Linked DNA regions of Homo sapiens: all the other regions are reported to be linked to region 6. Evidence: microRNA targets listed by miRTarBase, many of them from high-throughput screens and not tested one by one. Region 6 holds a microRNA gene; each other region holds the end of a gene's coding sequence. Distances are from middle to middle.

Region 1 (3,000 bases), not on the chromosome of region 6:
TCAGAGACTATCGACCGCGAGCGGAAACGCCTGGTCGAGACGCTGCAGGCGGACTCGGGACTGCTGTTGGACGCGCTGCTGGCGCGGGGCGTGCTCACCGGGCCAGAGTACGAGGCATTGGATGCACTGCCTGATGCCGAGCGCAGGGTGCGCCGCCTACTGCTGCTGGTGCAGGGCAAGGGCGAGGCCGCCTGCCAGGAGCTGCTACGCTGTGCCCAGCGTACCGCGGGCGCGCCGGACCCCGCTTGGGACTGGCAGCACGTGGGTCCGGGTGAGCGCGCGGGGCGGGGCCTAGGGCAGAGCAGGGACGGGGCTGGGGCAGACAAAAGGCCCGGGGAGGGCAGGGTTGTCGTCTCCGCTAGAAGTAGGCGAGTGTGAAACCGCACAGGGGTAAATTGAGCCTCAGTCACTCCCACTTCCGCCCCAGGCTACCGGGACCGCAGCTATGACCCTCCATGCCCAGGCCACTGGACGCCGGAGGCACCCGGCTCGGGGACCACATGCCCCGGGTTGCCCAGAGCTTCAGACCCTGACGAGGCCGGGGGCCCTGAGGGCTCCGAGGCGGTGCAATCCGGGACCCCGGAGGAGCCAGAGCCAGAGCTGGAAGCTGAGGCCTCTAAAGAGGCTGAACCGGAGCCGGAGCCAGAGCCAGAGCTGGAACCCGAGGCTGAAGCAGAACCAGAGCCGGAACTGGAGCCAGAACCGGACCCAGAGCCCGAGCCCGACTTCGAGGAAAGGGACGAGTCCGAAGGTGTGAGTCCGCCCAAACCCTGAGCCGGCTTGGCGGGAGGGCATGGCCTGGGAAGCGGATGCCGGACCCCACCTCTTTGACCACTGTTCCCGTCATCTCTAGATTCCTGAAGGCCAGAGCTCTGACAGGCGGTGCCCCGCCCATGCTGGATAGGACCTGGGATGCTGCTGGAGCTGAATCGGATGCCACCAAGGCTCGGTCCAGCCCAGTACCGCTGGAAGTGAATAAACTCCGGAGGGTCGGACGGGACCTGGGCTCTCTCCACGATTCTGGCTGTTTGCCCAGGAACTTAGGGTGGGTACCTCTGAGTCCCAGGGACCTGGGCAGGCCCAAGCCCACCACGAGCATCATCCAGTCCTCAGCCCTAATCTGCCCTTAGGAGTCCAGGCTGCACCCTGGAGATCCCAAACCTAGCCCCCTAGTGGGACAAGGACCTGACCCTCCTGCCCGCATACACAACCCATTTCCCCTGGTGAGCCACTTGGCAGCATATGTAGGTACCAGCTCAACCCCACGCAAGTTCCTGAGCTGAACATGGAGCAAGGGGAGGGTGACTTCTCTCCACATAGGGAGGGCTTAGAGCTCACAGCCTTGGGAAGTGAGACTAGAAGAGGGGAGCAGAAAGGGACCTTGAGTAGACAAAGGCCACACACATCATTGTCATTACTGTTTTAATTGTCTGGCTTCTCTCTGGACTGGGAGCTCAGTGAGGATTCTGACCAGTGACTTACACAAAAGGCGCTCTATACATATTATAATATATTCGCTTACTAAATGAATAAGGACTTTCCAACTGCGTTTCTGAGTTTTACAGATGGGAAAACTAAGGCCAAAGGATAGGAGTGGGGTTCACACAGCTAAGTCTGAAGGGAAACTGGAAGCAGCAACCACCTCTGCACCTCACCTGGTCTAAGAGGGGTTCAGGACTTGGGCCACCAAACTCTAGGGCCTGTCCCTCAGGTGCAATTGCAGCTGCTCCTAGGCTATGCCAACCTCTGCCAGAGAGCAGCTGTGAGGGTGTGAGCAAAGACAGGAACAGCAGAGGCCAGTGGAGGGAGTGGGGAACAGGGCCAAGGGAGCTCTTGGGCTTGACTCTCAAGGCCTGAATCAGTGTGTGTGTGTGTGTGTGTGTGTGTGTGTGTGTGTGTGTGTGTGTGTGTGTGTGTGTGTGTGTGTAATGGGAGTGGGGCTGGGAAAATTGGTGCCTTCCAAGAAGGAGTGTCCTGTCCAACCCCCCGCACCCCCACGGAACCTTCAGGAGCTGCTGCTCCCAGCCACAGGAAGTAGACCATATAAATATGGAATAAATACATGACCAGTGAGAGAGGCAAAATGTCGGAAAGCAGACCCCAGGCCAGCTGGGTCTCTACTACCAGGACCCCAGGCTCAGGCCATCAATCACCCCAGGAGAAGGGAGCCCGACCCCCACCAGGACCCAGTGAGAGGTAGACAGCACAAATGCTGAAGGAGCACCAAGGGGCCAGGTAAGGGAAGGGAGAGACTGGAGTACTGGGACAACCAAAGCCATCTCATGCAAGAACAAGTTTCTATTCCCAAACCACCCCCATCCCCATCAATGCTCAGCTCTCTTCCTGCCCCCATGCCTTCCCTCTGCTCAACAGAGAGCTGGAGGCAGGAGGGCGACTCAGTTTGCCAGACATGCTGCTGCAGGTCCCCAGACCCCAGGGAGGCTGGCAAGGGACACAAACACTTTGATGTTGCCACTCCTCCTCAAGGAATGCTCCTGCCCTCCCAACACCCCCAAGAAACACCTAGGCCGTGGACGCACAGAGCAAACTGCTTCATGTTCTAGGGGCCTATCTGGAGCTTCTGTCCAGGGCCTCTGACTGCAGCCCTCAACGGACATCAGTCGGGTAGCAGGCGACCCAGCTCCGCCTCATCCAGCCGGTTGGTGGCCATGATGTGCTCCAGCTGCTGCCGGTAGCGTGCCAAGTCCTGCATGAAGTGGGGCACCCGGGTATTATCCAGCACCCCATGGGGCCGCAGGTGGTCCACATCCTCATAGGACACCTGCAGGAGGAAGCCGGGCATCAGGCATAGGCAGTGGCCCCTGGCTTTCAGGTAGCTGGTCCCAGCCCACTGCTTACAGCTCACAGCCTTTGCTCCGGGACTTCTTCCTCTCCCCTCCTGATCCACAATTAGCTACAACGTTTTATACCTCTAGACTCAATCCTTCATCTTTGCCCTTTCTCTCAACAGTTTCTTTTTGTCATAGATGCCCTACAACC
Region 2 (3,087 bases), not on the chromosome of region 6:
TAAATATTATGGAGGGCAGTATGTCTATGGGTTGGTAAATCAGCAATTAGTATTTTCCATCTGCAGCTTAAATCCCTAAGGCAAGAAAGAGCTTACCTGTGACAGAATATGCAGGGACTCAATGGGTTGGTGCTGTCTAAGACTGGATTCTTAGAGTTTGGACCTTCCACATTTTACATGGAATCATTTGGCTGGGAACCCTGAGCCAACCTCAGTCCAACAGAATCTCAGTATCTGGGGGTGAGGCCTGGGAATCCATTTTGTAAAAACTTCCCTAGGAGATGCCAGTGAAAAACATGTGGGAGGCCCAGGAAACCGTGGAGAGGTCAGGAGCTAAGAGTCAGCAGCATAGGCATGGTGGCAGAACTAGGAGCTAATAAAGGCTCAGGGATCAGCACATATTAAAAATATATTGAATCTTGGCCGGGCACGATGGCTCTCATCTGTAATCCCAGCACTTTGGGAGGCCGAGGCGGGCAGATCACTTGAGGTCAGGAGTTCAAGACCAGCCTGGCCAACATGGTGAAACCCTGTCTCTACTAAAAATACAAAAATTAGCCAGGCGTGGTGGTGGGCGCCTGTAATCCCAGCTACTCAGGAGGCTGAGGCAGGAGAATCGCTGGAACCTGGGAGGCGGAGGTTACAGTGAGCCAAGATTGCACTATAGCACTCCAGCCTGGGCGACAGAGCAAGAATCAGTCTCAAAAAAAAAATTATATATATATATACACACACACATACACACACATACACACACACACACATATGGAGAGAGAGAGAGAGAGTCCTTACTATGTCCCAGGCATGTTCTAGGGTATCTTTAGGCAAAGACCCTCTCATGGCACTTGTATTTGGGAGAGACAAGACAAGAGAAACTAATTAAAACAAATGAAGAAGTTAATTCCAAACACTGATAAGCATTATAAAGATAATAAAACCAGGTGAGGCATAGAGGTTGCTTTGGATTAGCTAGGTCAGAGAAGAAATCCCTCAAAGGAGAAAATATTAGCACTGAAATCTCAAGATGAAGGAAGGAGCCATTTGGAGGCCAATGGCAGCATCTTAGAGGCAAAGGAAAGAGCAAGTGTGAAGGCCTGAAATCCCTGAGCAGAGAAGAGGTTCACCCACTGCTGTTCCCTGCCTGCCCTGCTTTTCCTGGGGGCGAAGAGACAAAAAGGATGACCCCCAAGTTTTCACTCTGTTATGATGTCCCACTAGTATGCCTTCAACTTAAGGACTAATATATTCTGATTGGTTGGATCCATTTTTATTTTGTTAGCTTATCAGAATTTCATAACTATAAGTTACCATCTCTATCTCTACCCTAAAATTGGTTATTGAACAGAACAATGCACCACTTGAGTCCAGGAGCTCCCGCCAAGCTTGTCTGGCAATCAAGACTTCAGAAGATACAGGCCTGTGTGAGTATGGCCCTTTAAGCCTAAGTCATGACATTGCTCTTTGTCTATCTGCATTCAGTGGTTCAGGCCCCTGTCCATGGCTGGTGTGACCTTTGGTGACATCCCCAGCCTCAACAGAAACCACTTCTCACTAAGCCAGCTTTACTGTGTTCCCAACAGCTAGCATGCAGGGATGCCTTCTTCCTCATTTTCACGTAAATGTGCTAATTCAAATGCTCTCCGAAGCAAATAGGCTTTTAAGGGCAAGCCTGAGAACCAAACCACGATTTATTTCACAGTTCTTCTGGAAAAGAGACTTCTAAGAACCGGATGCCCAAATGAGAAGAGCATTTTGGGTCACAGCCCACCTGCAAGTTAGGATCTGTAACATAAGAGCCAGAACACCAGATAGGCAGAGAGAGCCTGCCTGGTTTCTGAACTGAGTGAGGCAAATGTGGAAGAAATTCTAAACCTTGGGGGTGGGTTCTATTTTTTATAGCCATTCACACCCTAGGGGCATTACAGAGACCTTACAGACCTAAGGATTAAGAAGATTAATGGAGTCGATTTGATACCAAGTTTCATTTCTCAGCCTTTTCTTTTAAATTTATTATGCTTTTCTTTTCTTTTTTCATTTAAAATAAGGATTGAGACTTTGTCCCCAAGTAAGTTTCTCAAATGGCTACATTACTGAGAACCCAGACCCAAGCACAATGCTGTAGTGGGGGTGGGTAGTGGGCTGGCTTCAGCTCTGACAAATTGTGGGGGCTGATGATCTCCTTTCAGGGGCGGGGTGTGTGGTGCTGGGAGGGATGTCGGTGAGTAGAAGGGGAATGGCCTCCCTGTGGGAGACTCCGGGGCCGGCAGTCCCTGCCCAGTCCCTCCCTCTGCTTCCTCCCACTCTTCCACATGCGGAAAGGGCTCTGTGCCTCTCACAGCAGCATCTGACCCTCTGGACTGAGTCATTCGGTGTACTTGCCTAGAAGGTTCTTTAGCTCTGGGACTCACAGGAGTAAGAAGCTCAGAAAAGCACAGTGAGTCCCTGCCCAGTTCCAGGAAGCAATCTGAAAAGTCTGGTCTGGTCACCAGCAGATGACAGTTCTTTCACTTAGAGCAATTTTGCTAAGCACACTTATTTGCTTTCTCTGGAAACCTTCAGCACTAAATGTGTTGGTATTTCCACCTGAGAAGGTATTTAACTGCAAAAAATAGCAGAATAGCCAACAATAATAGAAATACTATGAGAAAGAAAATGCCTATGGCTGTAATCCCACAGGAAAGCTTGACATCAGATAGCTTAACTCCCCTTAGAGATGGCGGGTTTGCACACGTGGTCTCCTCCGAGCCTTCAAGTTTGTGCAGGTTTTCTTTGTACCATGTTAAGAAATGAATATTCGAGCAAGTGCAGTCCAGGGGGTTATGACTTAAATTAATGGTGCTCTGCTGGGACAAGATAGGGAGGAGACGGGGTGAGATGATGTTAATGCTGTTGGCAGCCAGATTGAGGTAGATTCCCTTAAGATGGCTAAGAGAATCAATGCTGTCGCATGTCAGGCTGTTGTGGCTTAAGTCTACATGGCTCATTTTTCCCAAGCTGTGGAATGCTTGCTGGTCTATAGAGAGGAGACCACAAGAGGACAAAATCAGAACCTCCAAGCTGCCCACGGTCTGAAGTAGGTTGGTCTTC
Region 3 (3,094 bases), not on the chromosome of region 6:
GCTAATTTTTGTATTTTTTAGTAGAGACTGGTTTTCACCATGTTGGCCAGGGTGGTCTCAAACTCCTGCCTCAGGTGATCCGCCCATCTCGGCCTCCCAAAGTGCTGGGATTACAGTCCTGAGCCACCACACCTGTCCCCTCCCCTGCTGTTTCATCTTGGTGCTTCCTACTGATAACTCAGTATTTTGGAGTCGCATTGTCTCCCCAACGCGAGTGCAGGCGCCCCGAAGGCAGGGGTTGTCTGTCTAGTCCGCTGCCCCTTCTCCTGCTCCCGAGACCGAGGCAGACGCTCAGTAAAGAGTCCTGGTGCCTGCTGATTGCTGTCCCCGCAGCACGTGTTCTGTGAGGAGTGCCTCTGCCTGTGGCTGGACCGTGAGCGCACCTGCCCGCTCTGCCGCTCGGTCGCCGTGGACACCCTGCGCTGCTGGAAGGACGGCGCCACGTCCGCACACTTCCAGGTGTACTAGGACCGAACACTGAGGACACCCAGAAGGACGCCAAGGGTCAGCATGCCCGGACCCAGCCCTGCGGGGGCTTCCTGAGAAACAGGCCTCAAGCACTTACATCCTGCCTCTTGCCCTCCACCACCTCTGACCCCAAAGTCCCGCCCCTGTCTTGTCCTTCTGACCTTCATCTTCCTCTCTCGTTCTGTGGTATAGTGCGTGCCTCCTTCCCCTGCAAAAGGGGACGTCTTCCTAACTCAGACTTGATGCCCTTCTAGATGCATCTTCCTTCTCCACTCCAAGTCAAGGACCTGGCAATACATGAAGTTCCCACTTGTTGGTTATTTTCTCTTTCTTTTTTCTTTTCTTTTCTTTCTCTCTCTCTCTGTTTCCCTCCCTCCCTCCTTCCTTCCTTCCTTCCTTTTTTTTTTTTTTTTAAAACAAGGTCTCGCTCTATCACCCAGGCTGGAGTGCAGTGGCACAATCTCGGCTCGCTGCAACCTCCACCTCCTGGGTTCAAGCGATTCTCCTGCCTCAGCCTCCCGAGTAGCTGGGATTACAGGCACCCACCAACACACTTGGCTAATTTTTGTATTTTTTAGTAGAGACAGGGTTTTGCCATGTTGGCCAGGCTGGTCTCCAACTCTTGACCTCAAATGATCAGCTCGCCTCAGCCTCACGAAGTGCTGGGATTACAGGCATGAGCCACCGTGCCCAGGCTCACTTTTTTTTTTTTTTTTTTTTTTTTGAGACAGGGTCTGGGTCTTCACCCAGGCTGGAGTGCAGTTGGCACAATCACAGCTCACTGCAACCTTGAACTCCTGGGCCCAAGCCATCCTCCCGCCTCAGCCTCCCAAGTAGCTGGGACTACAGGTGTGTGCCACCAGGCCTGGCTAATTTTTTTTTTTTTTTAATTTTTAGTAGAGGCGAGGACTTATTATGTTGTCCAGGGTGTTCTCAAACTCCTGGGCTCAAGCAATCCTCCTGTCCTGGCCTCGCAAAGTGCTGAGTGCTGGAATTACAGGTATGAGCCCCTGTGCCCAGCCCACCTGCTGGTTATTTTAACTTAGTACCTAGTACCTAGGACTTGATGGTGCAGGCTGGGGAGGAGCCTAGAGATCACTGCCTCCCAGATAGCCCAGGCCTGCAGATTAGAATCCCTGTGAGCCCTGTGAAGTATTTTTTCTTTTCTTTTCTTTTTTTTTTTTTTTTTGTTGTTGTGAGACAGAGTCTTGCTCTGTTGCCCAGGCTGGAGTGCAATAGCACGATCTTGGCTCACTGCAACCTCCGCCTCCCGGGTTCAAGTGATTCTCCTGCCTCAGCCTCCCGAGTAGTTGGGACAACAGATGCGTGCCACCATGCCCAGCTAATTTTTTTTTTGTATTTTTAGTAGAGATGGGGTTTCACCACGTTGGCCAGGCTGGCCTCAAACTCCTGACCTCAAGTGATCCACCTGCCTCAGCCTCCCAGAGTGCTGGGATTACAGGCATGAGCCACCACACCTGGCCCAAAGTATTTTCAAAATACAGTTGTTGGGCCCCACCATATACCTGTAATGACTTAAGGTCCCAAATACTTCATGCGCAGCAGGCAAAGCATGCAGCATCCTGCTTGGATTACGTGCTGTCATCCTCACAACAGCCCTGTGATGGGGGAGGTACTGTTGGGTCCCCTGTTTTATAGATGAGGAAACTTGGGCACAGAGCTTGGTGCGGTAACTTTCCCAGGGTCACCCAGCCAGCATGGGCGGGCCAAGTTTCCAACAGAGGCCTGGTACAGTTTCAGAACCCACATCTAAAAAAAAATAAATTTATTAGAGATGAGGTTTCTAATAAAAATCCAGGTTGTCCAGGCTAGATTCAAACTCCTGGGCTCAAGTGATCCTCCCTCCTCAGCCTCCCAAGCAGCTGCAACTACAGGCACACTCCGCTATCCCCAGCAGAGCCCGCACTCTTAACCTCCGCACTGCTCTGCCCCTCAGACATTCCAGGCATGGGGCCCAGCAGACACGGTCTTCTAAAAGCACACGAGAGGCCGGGTGTGGTGGCCCATGCCTGTAGTGCCAGCATTTTGGGAGGCTGAAGCAGGCGGGTCACCTGAGGTCAAGAGTTCAAGACTAGCCTGGCCAACATGGCAAAACCCCCTCTTTACTAAAAAATACAAAAATTAGCCGGGCGCGGTGGCGGGTGCCTGTAATCCCAGCTACTCAGGAGGCTAAGGCAGGGAGAACTGCTTGAACTCGGGAGGTGAAAGTTGCAGTGAGCCGAGATTGCACCACAGCACTCCAACCTGGGTGACAGAGTGAGTGAGACTCTGTCTAAAAAAAAAAAGAAAGAAAGAAGGGAGGGAGGGAGGAAGGAAGGAAGGAAGGAAAGAAAGAAAGGTCAGCTTTGGCCCAGATGTGGTTACCCCTTGGTCTCCTGTCTTTATGTCTTTCTCCTCTTCCTATTCTGTCATCTCCCTCACTTAAGTCTCAGGCCTGTCAGCAGCTCCTGTGGACATTGCCATCCCCTCTGGTAGCCTTCAGAGCAAACAGGACAACCTATGTTATGGATGTTTCCACCAACCAGGGTAGTGGCATGGAGCACCGTAACCATCTGTGCTTCTGTGATCTCTATGACAGAGCCACTTCTCCACCTCTGAAATGTTC
Region 4 (3,094 bases), not on the chromosome of region 6:
GTTTAAATCAAATATAAAATTAAAGTAACAAATTGTGTCGTTTCCTTCATCCTTAATGACAAAAACTTTCCATTCAAAAACTACACTAAGACAATGTGTTCCTCAATAGTAATCCAGCTTTAATTGTAGAGCATTAATTCGCCTTACAAACAAATTACAGTCACTACGATTTATCAGTAAGTACTGTACTGGTTTTGTGTTTTCTTTTGGCAAACTTTGAACAAATCAGAGAAGAAAACATAACTATTCATCATCATGTAGAAAAAGAAAAGAAAATGAACCTCAAGTATCTACCTATGTGTCAAGTGATTCATCCTGCCAGTAAAACTAAAATCTACACTTACAGCGGAGTTTTAAACATCCTTAGTGCAAGAAACATAACCAATTAATACAGATCAACACTAATTAATGAATATGGAAAATTTTCCTATACAGAGGTAGAATCCAGGGCACAGGCTAAAACAGTATTCAGTAGTCTAAACAAGACTTGAGTCTGGTTTTATGGAATCCACTTTAAATTTTAGGTATCAGACTGTATGTACATACATACAATAAATAGACTATACAATTTTTTTAAAGTAGTTTAATAAACTCCACAAAATAATAGCAGATGCATTGAAATATTTACATAATTCGATTTTCAAATCTCTCATTCAAATAAAAGGGATAAAAATAAAATTTCTGCCTTTACGGCAGCAGAACCTCTTTCCTGAAATGGATTGGTAAAATAAGATACTTCACTGGAGAGGAACTAATTTATGTTTAAGAGGTATTCATATTCAGCTAAGAAAATACAACCCTTTTTCAGCTATATAGATTAGGGAATATAAAATGATATTTTCTACATTTTTTGACCTGTATTCAAAGTTCTAAATTCAACTTTGACTTGAAGAGAGAAGGTGATTTTGGTACCCATACAGAGTAGATCATCACAATTACAATGGAAAGATAATTAACGTTTTATATGCTGTTTATTTGCTTTTGAAAGTTTGGGTCAGAAAGGCTGTGATAATAATTCTGGCCCAAACAGGTATGCTTATACCTGACACAAATTTCACTAAAACCTAACACTTTTGGCTTGGAGTTCTTGGGATTTCGACTTTCTGAGTCCCTTCCATTTCCAAAGCATGTTTCATTGAGAGCAGGCAATGTTTGGGGATCAGGTGTATGATTCAAGACTAATTAAGATGCCAAAGTTTTCCAAGCTCACATGGGAAGAAGGTGAAACACAGACCTGCTGCTGCCACTGGCCTCCCAGAGACTTGAAAAGGGAAACAACTCAGAAACCTGTCACTGTGACCTAAGAAAATATGCAAAAACCCAAAGCATTACATATGCAAGTGACTCACACTCTTAGATTTCATATCAAATTCACTATTTGATATTCTATCATCAACTTTCATTTTACTTGATATAAAAGATTCTTATTGAGTCCATAAGGAAATCAGGGATCGTCAGAAAATGAAAAAGTATGGTCATAATTAATGAAGCATAAACCTTCACAGTTTGAATTTTGTAGAACTTCTCTAAGCACCCACAATGAAAATGCAAGTTGAGTTTTTTTTAATTCAATCATTCTGTGAAAAATACCTCAGTAAATAGTAACATTTTTCCCTTCAATGATCTTCCCACTGGAATACCCAACCCACCCTTGTTTTTTTTCTTTTTCTTTTAGATTTTTTAAAAATTTTATACAAATAGACTAACTTTGATTTAAAGTAAACATATAAAAATTGAGAAGAATATTGCTTGCAACAATGGACTTGGAAGGAGAGGAATGGATTAGGCAGGGGTACAAAGAAATGGCTCCTACTCGGTAGTTCCAGGCACATGCCCAGCACTCTGCAGAACTCTCACAGGGACACCCTCTGCTGCACCGTGTCCTTCAGCCCACAAAGTCTGACTGATTTTGTAACAACAACTTCAGGTCAGGAAAAAAACAAATGCAAGAAAATCGGAAGGCACAAGCACCCATGTGATCTAGAATGTTCTTGGGGTGAGGAATAAGGAGGGAAAGGGATACTTTTGGTTCAGCACTACAGTCAATTTCGCCATTGTTGAAGAAAAACGGTATAAAATAAGGGTGTACAGAAATGGAACAAGCACAGCCCACTGGTGAGGAAGAAAGCTCAGAAGACAGCGCGCAGAAATAGTGCAGAGAGAAATGACCAGTACTATTTATTTGGAAGTCTGCGCCATGGTGGGTACAAACTACATCCCCTGCTCTGTGGGACCAAAATCAAAACAGGGCAAAAACAAATGAACAAAAATACCCCCATCCCAAAAAAGCAGCAGAAGGAATGCAAGAAGTCTTACAGGACACACTGGCCCAGCCCTGGGTGCAGCCAGCTCTGCATCCACCGCTGCGCTCGCCAACTTCAGCTACCGCCCCCATGGGGACTCCAGAGGGCCGGGCTGCTTAACCATTTTCCCTGCCTCTCCACGACTTCCCTTTCCCTTTATTTCCTCCTCCAGGATTCGAGTCCACTTCCTCCACGAAGGAAGTGCTGTTGCTGACAGTGGGGAGAGCGAGCTGGGATCTCCAGGGCACTGACGCTTCCTCCAAGCCTTGCTGCATGGGCGCTCATCCAGGCAGCTTGACGGAGCTATGCGTAAAAAAAGAAAAGGAAAGAAAAAACAAAAACAAACCCACCCCAAGTCTGTCTTTTCTCAAACTAAAGGAGAAACTAAGGGATGGTGTGGCCTCCGGCGGGCCTCCGTAGTTAAGAGATGATGGCTGGGGACCACCGGGGCAGAGTCAGGTTGTCTGCACTGGCTGAGCGCTTCCTCGCGGATCTTCTTAGGTCCTTGTACTTGTCCTCGCAGAGGCGAGAGATGGCCTGAGGGGCAAGAAAGACAGTGTGGGTCAGGGCGGGCCATATCTGCGTCCATTGCTCACTCGTCCTGGGCGCCGAGGGCGCTGCATGAGGGACAGGCAGAGCCCCTGCCCCTGTGGAGCTCCGGCCCAGAGCCCAGCTCTCTGCTGGCAGCAGGGAGATACGAAGGGAGTGTGGACTCAGCTCTTGTTTCCCAAGAGCTTACAGTCTGAGAAAAGACTCTCAGGATGTGAAATAACAGTACAGTGTCACCTCAC
Region 5 (3,091 bases), 28 Mb from region 6:
CTTATTTTCAGAATGCAAATACTCTATTCTTCAAGAGTGAACTCAAGACTACCATAAATAAATTTCATTTGTTTCTCAGCCTGTATTTCAGATTCTCAGACCCAGTGAGAGCATAACTGTGACTGTTAGGAGTAATGTCTAATTGTTGTATATTTAATTCTAACTTCTGTCCTCTGGTCAAATTCCAGGCTGCCAGGATATCGCAGATGAATTCAGAGCACAGGAGATTGATGGACAGGCCCTTCTCTTGCTGAAAGAAGACCATCTCATGAGTGCAATGAATATCAAGCTAGGCCCAGCCCTGAAGATCTGTGCACGCATCAACTCTCTGAAGGAATCTTAACAGGAACATGAAGCCTTGATAAAACAGCAGTTTTACTTTTCTCACAAAAACTTGTAAGGTAAAGGCCTAACTTGGTCTAGAATATGACACTTATTGTGGTGGATAGCCAAGCACATTGGGATCTCCACATCAAATACTGACATTTCTTCTACAGGTATAATAATTCATCATGCATTTTCATAATTAATAAACATTGGTAAAATTAATTTTACAGGTTACATGAAACATTGAAAGACTTGTTACAGAGGGCCATGATATTTTTCAAAGAAATGTGTTATACTAGATAATTTTTTTAAAGGTGATGTTTATCATTAATATAAAGAATCCTTTTAAAAGTAATTTAATGATTTACATTTCTCCTCTTTTGATTCAATTTTCTTATACATTTTTTCTACCCTATTAGTTTTCTAAAGGTTGTCATGAGAGGTATATTATGGAATAATTTAGTAGTCCAGTGACAGAATCGTATGAAATCAGTGTACATTTTAAAAAACATGTCTTTTAGACATATGCTTTATCTATAAAAAAGGAATTGTGTTCTAGTATGAACAATACTGATCTGGAAGTGAGAAGAGTTAGTTTCTATTCCAAACTTGACCAAGAATTTGGTTTGACTGAGAACGTTTTCCTCTCAGTTTTTGTACATTTATTTAGAGCAGTGGTTCTCAGTGGAGGTCAGTTTTGATCGCCAGGGGACATCTGGCAATGTTGAGACATTTTGGTTGTCACAGCTTGGGGGTGGGTTCAGGGGAGGGTTGCTACTGGTGTCTAGTAGTTAGAAGCCAGAGATGTTTCTAAACATCTTATAATGCACAGGACAGCACCCCTCCACTGTAAAGAATTATTGGTTCAAAAATATCGGTACTGCCAAGGTTGAGAAACTCTGATATAGAAGGAGTGATAAATATTGTTTTCACCCAAAGGAATACTTTTAAAGGATGAAGCTTACTAAACATATATGATGGAAGTATTATTCAGATAACATTAATATTCTGCTGAATAATTTTTTCTAGTTTAATCATACTAGAAAAAGAAAAAAAATCTACAAATTGTCCTATAAAATAAGGACAAACATGCAAATAATTTAACTCTCAGAAAGTACTAATTCATTCTGATTATCTTTCATACCTCTGTGCTCCTCTGCACTGACGAAGACATAATATGATTATACCTATGAACTAGTGCACAGCCTTTTCTGGCAAGAAAATAGTTTGTAGCAGATACGTGGTTGCTCTTTGGATTTTTTTCTATTGTTGAACATGCTGGGACTAGCTAGAATGCACATTCCTACTTCCTTTACCAAACGTTTGCATGCTTCCTGCAAAGCACTTACCAAGTGATTTCTCTTGAACCATCGGATATAATTTTGTATGTACATGTTTGAGGAAAAAAATGTAAAGCAAAACCTTTTACTGAACAGTGTTCTATAGAATTATGACACTAAAACAAAATTGTTTGTGGAAGCCCTGAAAGCTTTATAGTCCTGGACATCAAAAATTTTATTTGAGATGATGAATGTTTTGTTTTCATCTTTTCTTATATTACCACAATTGAGATATTTTAGTAATTGAAGGAACATACACAGATATTTGGCAGAAGTCGAGTAAGGAGGGGAAAAAAAGAGTCCGTGAGTTTCAGTCATTTTCACTGCTCTTTTCAAAAAGATTGTGTTGAGCTGGTAGAAGACTAAAGATGTCACTGAAGACATCACAGATACTATATTTATCTTTTGGCTTTGTGTACATTAGAGAATGTTGATTATTTTTATACAAAAATACAGCGGGTAATTTTTTTAATCTTTAGATGCCTCTTGTTTGAATGTATGCTTTGTGGAATTCTTTGTGTAGTAATGTTTTAAAAAAAGATGTTTACTGATAGTTACATGTAGGATTAGAATATGTAATATAATATAAGGCTCATGTTCCAGACCTACGATAGCTTGTAGTCTATGTTACGTATTTCTTTATATCACATTTTTAATCATTGGATTAAAGTATCAAGGAAAGCTAGGTACTCTATAATGAGTTTTCATTTATTAGCAGTTAATCATCATGACAGAATTGTCATATGCTTGACTTTTCCCTCTTCTTGGAATTTCAGAACACAAATACAGGCTAAGCATTAGTAAGAGATGGCCCACAGTATGAGAGAGAGAGGTGCAACGGAAAATCTCGCCTGGAATTAAAACTTTTCATAGATTATCCACGGTTAATACAAAATTTATTATATGGGGATAGACTGCTCCAGCAATAATGATTACATCCTATAACTGTATTACCTATGGCCTTTAAGGTATCAATTTTGAACTGTGTTGTAGGCTCTCCTTTTATTTGTTCTCTTTCCTAATAGCAGCCATTCTGTACTTATTGAAAGCCCCTGTGCCTACTGCTGTCTTAAGTATTCAGGAGGGGCTTACAAGAGGGTTTTCTATTGGAGAATACCGTATAATCTTAAATCTAGTCCAGATCTCTGTTGTCCCCACTCAAAACATACACAAAATATGCACTTGCTTTTTTCAAGTGAGTTTTTATTTAAAAATGGCTTGTTTGCTATCACATTGGTGCAGCTGTTTCTTTCAAGATGAGTTAATCATCTTAATTTCAAAGCTTCAGCTATATATAATGGATATATAGACAACACTGAGCATCCACCTCTCTCCTGAGCTTTAAAGCAGAGTTTCAGTATGATATAGGTGGGGAGAGTAAATTGTTTTCATATCCTTTCATACTACTACTAATAGTTTTAGGA
Region 6 (3,094 bases):
ACGCTGCCCGGCCCTGGTCCTAGTTTAGCTTTCATGCTTCTGAGTCCAGCCCAGGCCTCCTCCCTGTGGGCAGCAGAACCCTGTAGACCACTCCCCTCCTCGGTGTTCACCCTCCCGTGCCAGTTCCTGATGTGCCGCTCCTCATTTTGCCATCTGTGTTTTTCCTCCCCAGCTCTGCCAAGCCAAAGGCTTCATCTGTGAGTTCTGTCAGAATGAGGATGACATCATCTTTCCCTTTGAGCTCCATAAGTGCCGGACCTGTGAAGGTGAGGGCAGGTGCAGGCATCGGGCAAGTGAGCCTGAACACAGGGCTCCTTGATTCCCCAGAGCCACCCCTGTTAGCAAGAGTTCGGTGCCACTCAGCACCTCGCGGGGCCTCCCCAGGGGACACCACGCCTTGGTGGCGAGAAGGGGCTGTGGCAGCAACTGACCTCTAGCTGGAGATAATACAAATTGTTTTCTTCTCTCCCCCACCTTCCCAACCTGAGTAGAGTGTAAAGCGTGTTACCATAAAGCCTGCTTCAAGTCTGGAAGCTGTCCGCGCTGCGAGCGGCTGCAGGCCCGGCGGGAGGCACTGGCCAGGCAGAGCCTGGAGTCTTACCTGTCAGACTACGAGGAGGAGCCCGCGGAAGCGCTGGCCCTGGAAGCCGCCGTCCTGGAGGCCACCTGAAGAAAGCACGTGCAGCCCTCCCTCCGGGCCGGGTCACACCTGTTGCAGAACTGAGCCACTCTTTGAAGGACTCGCCCCACCTGGGGCTTCTTTTTTTTTTTTTTTTTTTAATTATCATCATCTTTTTTTTTTTTTTTACTGACTTGTCTGACGTCTGTGTGCAGTCAGCCGTCGGCAGGTTGATGGGTCCAGAGTCTGTGGTGACAGATAATTTGTAAACACCAGGTGTTTCCATCAGAACTGACATGCGGGTCCTTCAGTGAAGCTTCTAGTGCCTCTGTCAGTGGAAGAGACAGCAAGACCAAGTTCTTCCAGCGTCTGTGGCCTTCTCCTCTAGGTTTCACCTGCATGTCAGGTATCATTTCCAATTTTCCTTTGTTTCAGTTCTGGAGCTTCTGAGCCAGGCCTTTCTCAACCACCTCTCCTGCTGCTGAAACGGGGATGGCGTTTTCCCTCTCCCTGTCCTGGACTGGGGTCAGACTGTGCCCCGAGGAGAAGCAGCAGAGAATAGGACTACGTCATGGGCATTTCGTCCACTTATTTGGGTATTTTGGGGGCCACAGAACAATCCTGACTATCCTAGACTCCTCAGAGACCTCAGAGGCAGCTGTGAATGTCCCTATGTTGCCGGGAGTTCCTGTTTGAAATATTTGAAGCATAGAGGATGCCACAAGCTGACTTTCTTCATCTACCTTGGTGATCTTGAAGCAAAGAACAGAACTGATGCTCAGGCCAGGCTCACCTGTAGCCTTACGCCGCAAGCATACGTGAGGCGCCAGCTCTGTCGCTGAAGGAGCGCTTACTCAGAGGAGCGGTCGGCCCCCTCTTGGTGTTAAGGTCTCTTAGTTAACCTGGCTTTTTGGTGCAGGTGTGATCTTTGAAGCTCAGGCAGGTCCCTGATGCCATCCTAAGGTGAGGACAGGAACCTCACCCACCATCTTCTTAGCGTGTCCCTGATGACTCTGTCCTCTGTTAGATGGTCGTTGTGCTTCTGAGTAAAAGTACAACCCGACTCCGTTCTCTCCCCTTCCTGCAGCAGAGCTGGGTCCTTCCCTGGTGGCCGAGTCTCTCTTGCCTTAGCTTCTTTGGTCAAAGTTGGAGAAAAGCTTCCTGCTATTAGTGCTGTTACAGAACTTGACGGTTTGTGGATGTGAGTGTGAATGTCCCTGTGTTCTTGGGATAACAAGAGCCTTTATGCCAATTATGCACTTAACTCTGTGTAGCCTGGTAATGTTTATCTGTTCATTTGATAATGCTGATTTTAGTGTGCTGCCCCCCTCCCCCCGTTAATGTGTGTTGATGGTGAAGTCCTTTTGATAATGCTGATTTTGGTGTGCTGCCTCCCCCTTCCCCCCCGTTAATGTGTGTGTTGACAGTGAAGTCCTTGGGTGGGGCCATGTGTGTGTTTGTGATGTTCCTTAAGTTGATGCAGCTTCTAACCTCTGTGAAAACACTGGTCAGAGTGGCTTCTCCAAGAGCTGGCAGCTCTGTGAACTAAAGCCTGCATCATTTTTGTTCTGGGATTGAATTCTGCCCATGGGCATGTCTTCTCATAGTTGCTTGCTGGTAGGAAAGAAATGGGCGTGGGTGCTGCCCTGGAAGCTGAGCGGAAAGTTGCCTGTGGTTGGTGGAAGCTGATGAGAGCTTGAGCTGGCGGTAAGAAGGAGTCTCCCAGGGAAGTGGGAGAGGCATTAAGGTGATGGCCAGGGCTGAGGCTCCACCAGCGTGAGAGGGAACATGTGGGAACTGGCCCCTGCCCTTGATTCCTCTGCCTCAAAGTTGGGATCTGAAAGCCATGTAGGGCTAGAAGACCCTGAGGCTGTTCTCCCTTCTGTTCATAGTGAGACTCAAAAAGCCAAGTCCCAGAAGTTCTGAAGGGCTGTGACTAGAAGTGCCCAGGTCCTTCAGGGAGCTTTAAGAATGACCCCACAGAACTCAAGTTTAACTAGGGGTTAGGTCCCAGATTCAGACCCAGGAGTTTATAAAAATGAGCTCTACTTCCAGTTTTGGTTTAAATTACACATCCAGGCCAGGCACAGTGGCTCACACCTGTAATCCCAGCACTTTGGGAGGCCAGTGCGGGCGGATCATGAGGTCAGGAGTTTGAGACCAGCCTGGCCAATGTGGTGAAACCCTGTCTCTTCCAAAAATACAAAAATTAGCTGGGCGTGGTGGCACACGCCTGTAATCCCAGCTACTTGGGAGGCTGAGGCAGGAGAATCGCTTGAACCTGGGAGGCAGAGGTTGCAGTGAGCCGAGATTGCGCCACCGCACTCCAGCCTGGGTGACAGAGTGAGACTCCGTCTCAAAAAACAAAAAGGTGACACATCCAGCTCTTTCTCCAGGTCACTGCGCTGGAGGACAGATGTGCCGTCTTGTCCTGCCTGTTTCACATCAGCATAGGATCAAAGGATGACAATGCTG
Region 7 (3,094 bases), not on the chromosome of region 6:
CTGCAGGCCTGTGGCATCACAGCCGTCCTCAACGTGTCCGCCAGCTGCCCCAACCACTTTGAGGGCCTTTTCCGCTACAAGAGTATCCCTGTGGAGGACAACCAGATGGTGGAGATCAGTGCCTGGTTCCAGGAGGCCATAGGCTTCATTGGTAAGGGGGCACCTCTGCCCAGAAATCCCGAGGGGCTCCAGAGGAGAGGACTGGGGGCACCTGTCTCCTGGGCTGTGCACATTCCGTCTGACACCACTCCCCCATCTCCCTTGCAGACTGGGTGAAGAACAGCGGAGGCCGGGTGCTGGTGCACTGCCAGGCGGGTATCTCGCGCTCTGCCACCATCTGTCTGGCATACCTCATGCAGAGTCGCCGTGTGCGGCTGGACGAGGCCTTTGACTTCGTTAAGCAGCGCCGGGGGGTCATCTCCCCCAACTTCAGTTTCATGGGGCAGCTGCTGCAGTTTGAGACCCAGGTGCTGTGTCACTGAGGTGGTGCCCCTCTGCCTGCCTGCCCCACTGTGCTGGCAGGAGCTGACTGTGGACTGGTGGGCTCCCCTCTGGGCCAGCACAGTCCCCTCACCTCTGGCAGGGCTGCTACCTCCTCAGAGTTTCAGAAGCCCCCACATGGGGGCTCTAGGAATGCCGGCATGCTGGTCTTTCCGACCTGGTGCTCTTCTGCTGGGGGACTGAGGCTGGCCCTCATTCGGGGTCGGGAACCAAGGGTGTGTCTGCTCTTTCCCTCCCCATCCTCTGGCAGAAATCAGCTAGACGCTATACCGTGGACTCTCCCTGGTCCACCACCATGTTGAAGCCCTTGGCAGCCTGAGAGCTCCAAGGAACAAGCTGTGACAACCAGGAGCCCTGTCTGTGGGTTCGTCTGCCCAGGGCCTGGAGCCCAAGCCCTGTGTTCCTGGGGAAGCTGGGGACTTGGGAAGTGATGGGTGTGTCATGTTGCGTGTGTCTGTCTGTGAGCCTTTCACACCTGTGCTGGCGCTGGAAAATTATTTGTGCTCAGCTGACATTTAACACTCCCTCCCCCGCTTCCTCCTAGCCCTGTGGGCAGGGGTTGGAAACTTAGCACTTTATATTTATACAGAACATTCAGGATATGTCAATAAAATATTGTTATATTTAAAAAACAACAACCCAGCATCTGGTCTCATCTGATACCCGGGAGCCTGCTTGGACCTCACGTTTCCTTGTGCCCTTGGGGTTTGGGAAGTGAATGGGCAGAGGGGCCAGCGGCCGGAAGGGGCAGGTCTGACCCTCCCCACAAAGGCTGCTCTCTTGGCCCCAGTTCTCCCTGGGCTGGCGTCTTTTCCCAGACAGGGACCTCGCTCCAGAGCTGAACAGGGTTGTTTCTGGGAGGCTGGGTCCCGTCCGTGACTCAGAGCCAGGCCCAGTGCTGCCCCGATCAGACCCCGCTTCCTTTTCGGAATGTGGAAGGATGCGAGTGTGTGCCTGAGGGTGTGGTCCTGTGGGGGTGGGTGGTCTTGGCCCATGCACACCTGCATGTTGCGCATGGTGTTCCTGTGGGAGCGTGTGTGCACGCCCACACAAGAGGCACTTCCCAGGCCGTGTGGGTCTCTACTTCCTCACAGCAGGCCTGCATGGCCTCCCTACTCTTCTCCCACATCCCAGGGCTGGGGCTCACAGCGTCCCCTGTTCCAGAGCTCCTTCATGTCCCCCAAAGGCATGTGGCCCTGTGTCTGGTGCAGAGGACCTGTCACCAGGGATGGGATTCATTGCTCTGCACACCCACCCAACTAGCACATCTTGGCCGAGCTTCAATTACGGGCCCAGCATAGGACTAAGGTTCAGTGGAGACCTGAGACCAGGGCCCCGCCCACGCCAGAAGCCAAGGGGTACCTGCCGACGCTGCCGGGAGGGGGTGCTGTGATCTGCCTGTGAGCAGGGGTGCTGAGGCCTTTGGAAATGGTTGTGCGGGAGCCAGTCCTGCTTCAGGCTCACTGGGACACTCGGCCATTTGGAGTGTCATCCAGCCAAGGGTTGTCTCTGCACAGTGCTACCTCTAAGGATCTGTCCGTGGTCTGTTAGGAACTGGGCTGCACAGCCGGAGGTGAGCAGCTTCATCAGTATTACAGCCGCACCCCATTGCTAGCATTACTGCCTGAGCTCCGCCTCCTATCAGATCAGCGGTGGCATTAGATTCTCATAGGAGCTTGAACCCTGTTGTGAACTGCATTGGAGGGATATAGGATGTATGCTCCTTATGAAACTCTAACTAATGCCTGATGATCTGTCACTGTCTCCCATCACTCCCAGATGGGACCGTCTAGTCTCAGGAAAACAAGCTCTGGGCTCCCACTGATTCTACATTATGGTGAGTTGTATAAAATTATTTCATTGTAGATTACAATGTAATGATAGAAATAAAGTGCACAATAAATGTAATGCACTTGAATCACCTAGAAACCATCCCCCTCACCATCCTGGGCCAGGCATGGTGGCTTATGCCTCTAATCCTAGCACTTTGGGAGGCCGAGATGGGTGGATCAACTGAGGTCAGGAGTTCGGGACCAGCCTGGCCAACATGGTGAAACCCCGCCTCTACTAAAAATACAAAAATTAGCCAGGCATGGTGGCGGGCGCCTGTTATCCCAGCTACTTGGGAGTCTGAGGCAGGAGAATTGCTTGAACCTGGGAGGTGGAGGTTGCAGTGAGCCAAGATTGCGCCATTGCACTCCAGCCTGAGCATCAAGAGTGAAACTCCATCTCAAACAGAGGAACAAACAAAAACCGGTCCCTGGTGCCACAAAGGTTGGGAACTGCTGTCTTACGGCATTCTGAATGCCTGGGAGGGTGTGCTTGTGGGGCAGGGCAGTGTAGTTTGACAGTCCGGGGGCTGGTTTTGCTTCACCTTGCTGTATACAGTTTTCTTGTCTGTAAAATGGAGTTTCATTGTTAGCCCCCACCTCTGAGGATGTAGACTTACACAAGTCAATCCATGTAGTGCCTGCTCATAGTAGGCGCTCCGAAAATGTTAGCTAACTACGGCCCTAGGAGTGAGGTTGATCTGATGTGCCGGTGTGCACATGCGAGGTGTGCATCTGGACCAGGATGGACACTCATAACGGCT

Evidence for each region. The annotated mature microRNA hsa-miR-922 reads GCAGCAGAGAAUAGGACUACGUC and lies in region 6 at 1,168-1,190, shown strand. An mRNA with a match to its seed (bases 2 to 7 or 8) in the 3' UTR can be bound and repressed. Matches are read on the target gene's strand: a 7mer-m8 pairs with bases 2 to 8, a 7mer-A1 pairs with bases 2 to 7 and ends in A, and an 8mer does both.
Region 1: miRTarBase lists MATCAP1 as a target of hsa-miR-922. Seed matches in the 3' UTR shown: 7mer-m8 at 1,788-1,794.
Region 2: miRTarBase lists CD180 as a target of hsa-miR-922. Seed matches in the 3' UTR shown: 7mer-m8 at 2,487-2,493 and 7mer-A1 at 341-347.
Region 3: the mRNA of RNFT2 is a reported target of hsa-miR-922. The part of its 3' UTR that is shown has no 7-base or 8-base seed match.
Region 4: miRTarBase lists CCNY as a target of hsa-miR-922. Seed matches in the 3' UTR shown: 7mer-m8 at 2,290-2,296 and 7mer-m8 at 694-700.
Region 5: the mRNA of PHC3 is a reported target of hsa-miR-922. Seed matches in the 3' UTR shown: 8mer at 1,335-1,342.
Region 7: the mRNA of DUSP2 is a reported target of hsa-miR-922. Seed matches in the 3' UTR shown: 7mer-m8 at 669-675.

The regions. Positions count from the first base shown.
Region 1 is chr16:67,174,194-67,177,193 of GRCh38, forward strand. MATCAP1 (microtubule associated tyrosine carboxypeptidase 1) reads right to left here. Exons shown (of 7, transcript NM_001040715.2): 7 at 1,406-2,782. The coding sequence ends at 2,618. NOL3 (nucleolar protein 3) reads left to right here. Exons shown (of 4, transcript NM_001276309.3): 2 at 1-271; 3 at 428-751; 4 at 854-1,544. The coding sequence ends at 861. Among named protein-coding and RNA genes, the nearest start is that of NOL3, 5.2 kb to the left of the region's middle. RefSeq lists an enhancer at 1-234 and silencers at 132-391, 1,765-2,194.
Region 2 is chr5:67,180,296-67,183,382 of GRCh38, forward strand. It overlaps CD180 (CD180 molecule), which reads right to left. Exons shown (of 3, transcript NM_005582.3): 3 at 1-3,087. The coding sequence ends at 2,562. Among named protein-coding and RNA genes, the nearest start is that of CD180, 15 kb to the right of the region's middle.
Region 3 is chr12:116,848,981-116,852,074 of GRCh38, forward strand. It overlaps RNFT2 (ring finger protein, transmembrane 2), which reads left to right. Exons shown (of 11, transcript NM_001382266.1): 11 at 334-3,094. The coding sequence ends at 468. Among named protein-coding and RNA genes, the nearest start is that of HRK, 31 kb to the right of the region's middle.
Region 4 is chr10:35,568,800-35,571,893 of GRCh38, reverse strand. It overlaps CCNY (cyclin Y), which reads right to left. Exons shown (of 10, transcript NM_145012.6): 10 at 1-2,840. The coding sequence ends at 2,724. Among named protein-coding and RNA genes, the nearest start is that of GJD4, 35 kb to the left of the region's middle.
Region 5 is chr3:170,094,482-170,097,572 of GRCh38, reverse strand. PHC3 (polyhomeotic homolog 3) reads left to right here. Exons shown (of 15, transcript NM_024947.4): 15 at 189-3,091. The coding sequence ends at 343. Among named protein-coding and RNA genes, the nearest start is that of GPR160, 58 kb to the right of the region's middle.
Region 6 is chr3:197,672,594-197,675,687 of GRCh38, reverse strand. MIR922 (microRNA 922) reads left to right here and starts at 1,112; the gene lies at 1,112-1,192. RUBCN (rubicon autophagy regulator) reads left to right here. Exons shown (of 20, transcript NM_014687.4): 19 at 173-266; 20 at 492-3,094. The coding sequence ends at 670.
Region 7 is chr2:96,141,211-96,144,304 of GRCh38, reverse strand. It overlaps DUSP2 (dual specificity phosphatase 2), which reads left to right. Exons shown (of 4, transcript NM_004418.4): 3 at 1-151; 4 at 268-1,136. The coding sequence ends at 482. Among named protein-coding and RNA genes, the nearest start is that of DUSP2, 2.7 kb to the left of the region's middle. RefSeq lists an enhancer at 1,646-1,715 and silencers at 2,766-2,815, 2,876-2,925.